Linked DNA regions of Homo sapiens: region 1 is linked to region 2. The links come from fine-mapping of genetic effects on gene expression. A gene starts in region 2. The other region holds a variant in brackets. All regions are shown on one strand. Distances are from middle to middle. Region 1 has its middle 5.0 kb from the start of FCRL3. Region 2 holds the start of FCRL2 (Fc receptor like 2).

Region 1 (2,932 bases), 71 kb before region 2:
CTGCGAAGCCCTTGTAAGCAGGGACAGACAAGGCAAGGGCTTACGTATGGGCAGTAAGTGCTTGGAAGGACACAAGTGCTGCCTGGCAACAGAACTTTGGGGGCTGCAAGATGGTTCAACAGAGGCCCACAGTAGGCACAGTCACATTTTCTAGGTAGTCATAGCTGAAGCAGATAGTCTTTTGTTTTGTTTTTTTTGGGGGGAGGGAGGGGCAAAAATAGAAATCTCTAAAGCATTTTTAGGCACTGGTGACTGGAATAATATTTTTGGCTCCAAGATTCCTTGTATGCTACAAAACACCAATGAGAATCTAGTTTTAAATTGCTAGAATGAAGCCTAGAAAAGCTTCCCATGTCTCAGTCACCCCAAATCTCACCCTGCTTTCAGGTCCAAGCAGCAAACTGGATGGATTACTCTTGAATTCATGTGGCATTCTCTTGGCTCAAGGGTGGAAAACATTTAAACAATTACTGACATGATTACATAGTTATTGTAGGTGGCTTAATTTTTTAATTCTTTCATATACAGATGGGGCTGTGCTCCCCAGACTGGTCCTGAACTCCTAGACTCAAACAATCCACCCACCTCTGCCTCCCAAAGTGCTGGGGCTCCAGGTGTGAGGAAACACACCTGGTCAGTTATATTTTCTAACTGAACTAAATGTAAGTACAAGGTGAAAATATTCCCTAGGAGACAGTCTTCTTAGGCCAGTACAATTCCATATCAAGCAGAGGTTGGTCTGCTCACTTGAGAGAGTAGATGCTGTGTCACATAAGAGGTCCCTCACTGAATTCAGAGCTGAGGTGTCAGGAGCACTTCACTCAAAGAGGAAGTGAAAATCAAGATGCTTTGAATAGATTCAATGGAAAAGAAAGACACAAAATGTTATTTTAACATAGGTTCCTTCAATGTCTAGTTTATTGAGAGGTTTTAACATGAAGAGATGTTGAATTTTATTGAAGGCCTTTTCTGCATTTGAGATAATCATGTGGCTTTTGTCTTTAGTTCTGTTTATGGGATGAATCACATTTATTGATTTGCATATGTTGAACCTTGCATCCTAGGGCATAAGAAACCCACAGCCAATATCATACTGAATGAGCAAAAGCTGGAAGCATTCCCCTTGAAAACCGGCCCAAGACAAGGATACCCTCTCTTACCACTCCTATTCAACATAGGATTGGAAGTTCTGGCCAGGGCAAT[C/T]AGGCAAGAGAAAGAAATAAAGGTATTCAAACAGGAAGAGAGTAAGTCACACTATGTTTGTTAGCAGATAACGTGGTCCTATATCTAGATAACCCCATCATCTCAGCTCAAAAGCTTCTTAAGCTGATAAGCAACTTCAGCAAAGTCTCACGGTACATAATCAAAGTGCAAAAATCATGAGAATTTCTATACACCAACAGTAGACAAGCAGAGAGCCAAATCATAAATGAATTCCTACTCACAATTGCCACAAAAAGAATAAAATACCTAGGAATACAGCTAACAAGGGAAGTGAAGGACCTCTTCAAGGAGAGCTACAAACCACTACTCAAGGATAGCAGAGATGACACAAAGAAATGGAAAAACATTCCATCCTCATGGATAGGAAGAACTGATATCATGAAAAAACAATTTATAGATTCAATGCTATGCCCATTAAATTACCATTGACATTCTTCACAGAATTAGAAAAAAAAATTTTTTTAATGTGTGTGGAACAAAAAAGAGTCCAAATAGACAGGACAATCCTAAACAAAAAGAACAGACCTGGAGATATCACACTACCTGACTTCAAATTATACTACAAGACAACAGTGACAAAAAAGCAAGGTATTGGTATAAGAACAGATACATAGACCAATGGAACAGAGTACAGAGCCCAGAAATAAGACCACACACCTAAAACCATCTGATCTTTGACAAACCTGACCAAAACAAGCAATGGGGAAAGGATTCGCTATTTAATAAATGATGCTGGGAGAACTGGCTAGCCATATGCAGAAAATTGAAACTGGACCCCTCCTTTCACCATATACAAAAATTAATTCAAGATGGATTAAGAACTTAAATGTAAAACCCAAATCTATAAAAACCCTAGAAGAAAATCTAAGCAATACCCTTCAGGACATAGGCGCAGGCAAAGATTTCATGACAAAGACACCAAAAGCAATTGCAGCAAAAGCAAAAATTGACAAGTGAGATCTAATGAAACTAATGAGCTTCTGCTCAGCAAAAGAAGCTATCATCAGAATGACCAGACAACCTACAGAATGGGAGAAAATATTTGCAATTTAACCATCTGACAAAGGTCTAACATCCAACATCTACAAGGTACTTAAACAAATTTACAAGGGAAAAAAATAAAAAACAACCTCATTAAAAAGTGGGTAAAGGACATGGACAGACACTTGTCAAAAGAAGATATATATGTGACCAACAAACACATGAAAAAAAGCTCAACACTACTGATCATTAGAGCAATGCAAATCAAAGCTACAATGAGATACCATCTCACACCAGTCAGAATGGCTACTATCAAAAAGTCAAAAAACAACAGATACTGGCAAGGTTGTGGAGAAAAAGGAAAGCTTATACCCTGCTGGTGAGAGTATATATTAGTTCAATCATTGTGGAAGACAGTGTTGTGATTCCTCCAAGACCTAGAGGCAGAAATACCATTTGATCCAGCAATCCCATTACTGGGTATATACCCAAGGGAACATAAATCATTTGATTATAAAGATACTTGCATGCATATGTTCATTGCAGCACTATTCACAATAGCAAAGACATAGAATCAATCTAAATGCCCATCAATGATAGACTGGATAAAGAAAATGTGGTACATATACACCATGGAATACTATGCAGCCATAAAAAGGAACAAGATTATGTCCTTTCCAGGGACATAGATAGAGTTGGAAGCCATTATTCTCAACAAACTAATGCA
Region 2 (2,885 bases):
GACCCTGCAGAAGTTTGTAGTTCTGACACATTCCTCTATAAATAGCTGTTTTCAGAGCTGTAAAAACATTCAGCATTCAGCCAGACAATAAAGAGGCATTACAGTCCTATGGGCAGGAAAACAATTCTCTCCAAATTGTTCTTTTCTTCAATCTGCATGTTATTGCCCTTCTTAAAGCCAGGCTTTTAAGGAAGAGGCAAGCATGTGGGGTCTTGAGAAGGCTAGGTGGTACCTGGTCACCCAGACATGCAAGTGGTGTTGGAAACAGGCTGCGTGACCTCAGAACATGTCAGCCTAGAGGGCAGTAATATTAGGACATCTTCACAGGCTTTCCAGAGCCACCTCTATAGAATCCTGGGGTAGTGGGGTGACTGATATGCCAGAGACCAAGAACAACAAAGACAAGGAGGACTCACCTGCCTGTTCAGTGACTGCATCTGTGAGGAGATCAAAAGCCAGAGATTAGCACACAGCATTTGCCCTCATAATTTATAAATTTATATTACTCTGGTAAATTGCTCAAAAACTTCTTTCCATTTTCCCTTTCTTTTCTATTTCCCTAATCTCTTATTACTAACAATTCAATCTCCCTCGAGCACACATCTAACTGTCATTCATTGTAGTCAAAAGGCAAGTTGCAAACCCAATGCTTGACTAAAGGGATTGTCGAGAATACCCATGTTGGATATTTAGTGACTCTCCTTGATTTCATTTTCCTTCCACCATCCCCACCACTCTATCTCACACTCTGACTTTTCAAGTGGTAGATAGACATGACAACACGATCACAAAGGGCTCATCAGGAAACATACATTGTGAGAGTTCCAAGAAATCAACAAATCAGTCTCTTTCCTATGGCCATATTTCACGTTAGAGCCCTTTGTATTCCAATAACAAATATTTATTTAGTGCCTACACAGCATAGAGAAAGGGATCTTATTTACTCTCTCACCCAGGCTGGAGTACAATGGTGCGATCTTGGCTCACCACAACCTCCACCTCCCGGGTTCAAGCAATTCTCCTGCCTCAGCTTCCCGAGTAGCTGGAATTACAGGTGCCCACCACCACGCCTGGCTAATTTTTGTATTTTTAGTAGAGATGAGGTTTCACCATGTTGGCCGGGGTGGTCTCGAACTCTGACCTCAAGTGATCCACCAGCCTTGGACTCCCAAAGTGCTAGGATTACAGGTATGAGCCACTGCACTCACCCAGGAATCTTATTTTCTAGCAGCAGCTGTCATCTCCCTCATTGTCCACGATTAAACAGAGGAATATTAGCAAAGGGTCTCAATGCATCTGCTGAACCCAAATCTTATAGATAACAATTGAATAATCGGTGTTCATGGAGGAGAAGGGCATTGCTAAATGCTAATATTATGAACATTTTACTATGAGAACATTATATTACTCAATGAGATCTAAGATATCAAAATAGCAATTCATGACCAGCAAATGGAAAAGTGGTCCACCTTGAACATTAAGCATTGTGCTTAATGCTTAATGGATGTGCTGCAAATTCACTGTCCTCAGCCTACTTCTTTGCATCTGCCTTTGAAGCCCAAGCTGCAGGCAGGACCTGAGCATCCCCACCAGTCCCTGGGCTCCAATAAAACCTCCAACCTTTTGGGAGCAGTAGACCTCATTCAGCTGCCACCTCACTTCTCAGTCAAATTATTGAACTCACCAAAGATGACCAGCAATGACCACAGCAGCATGAGGACCTAATCCAGCTATTTGAAAAGAGATGTACTCTTGGTCACCAACTGGAGACTCTGAGCAGGCGATGAAATGTGGTTTTCAGAATAGGTTTTGTATAATTAGCAAAAAAGGAAGTAGAATAGTGCCACTATGTTTAACCATTATCTTTGTCCTGGAAGGGCTAAAACAATTATAGCTGATCCTCTCAATGCCAGAGAAATTTTGTAACTTGACCCTCATTATGATACCTAGCATTTACATATGGGTTGCAATGAGTCAGACACAGTTCTAAGTGCCTCATGCTTACAGAGTTATTTATTACCTTCAGCAAGTTTCTGAATTGGCACTATCCCCTTTCACATGAATAAGGAAATTGAGGCACTAGTAAAGGTAAGTGTCTTAGTCCATTGGGGCTGCTATAAAGAATACCTTAGACTGAGAAATTTATAAACAACATAAATTTATCACTCATAGTTCAAGAGGCTGGGAAGTTTAAGATCAAGGCACCAGTAGATTCAGTGTCTGATGAGGGCCTGTTTCTCATAGATGGTGTCCTCTATGTGTCTTCACATGATGGAAGGAGCAAACAAGCTCCCTCAAGCCTCTTTTACAAGGAGACTAATCCTTTTCATAAGAGTTCCACACTCATGACCCCTAAAAGGTCATGTAATAAAAGGTGGGTACCTTTTATTACTATTGCATTGAGGATTAAGTATCAACATAAGAATTTTGCCAGGACACAAACATTCAGATGATAGCAGCCAGTAAAATGACCAAGATCAGCTTAATCAATTTCTAGTAGTAACAGATCTGGGATTCAAACCCAGGCAGCCCAGTGTCACAGTCTGGCTCTTAAACATTGTGCCCTATTATCTTGATATATTGCTTCTCAAGGTTCATAAAATAATAAGGCCATTGTTTCAATAGCTCATATTTCTTAAGTAAAATTTTTCGTAGTCATTCGATGACTTTCTAGAATGAGATTTTACTAAACTTCAAAACACTTGCACTATATTGCTGAAAACATTGCCATCTTTCTAATCTGTAATCACAACATTGCCTATTTCTAATCTGCATTGCTTTTTGTACCCCAGGCTGATCCTAATACAGTTATCTCACACAAAGCAAAGCGCGTGTTATGTGAACACCTATTATCATGCTCACTTTGATTAGATGTAGTCCCAGTA

The links. PIP is the estimated chance that this variant, and not a neighbour inherited with it, causes the effect.
Region 1: its variant is the best candidate, but not a certain one, in a credible set for the expression of FCRL2 in whole blood (TOPMed, PIP 0.75).

What each region holds. Positions count from the first base shown.
Region 1 is chr1:157,704,280-157,707,211 of GRCh38, forward strand. No RefSeq gene overlaps it. Among named protein-coding and RNA genes, the nearest start is that of FCRL3, 5.0 kb to the left of the region's middle. The variant C/T (reference allele first, on the strand shown) is at 1,204.
Region 2 is chr1:157,775,359-157,778,243 of GRCh38, forward strand. FCRL2 (Fc receptor like 2) reads right to left here and starts at 1,774. Exons shown (of 12, transcript NM_030764.4): 1 at 1,685-1,774; 2 at 417-437. The coding sequence starts at 1,715.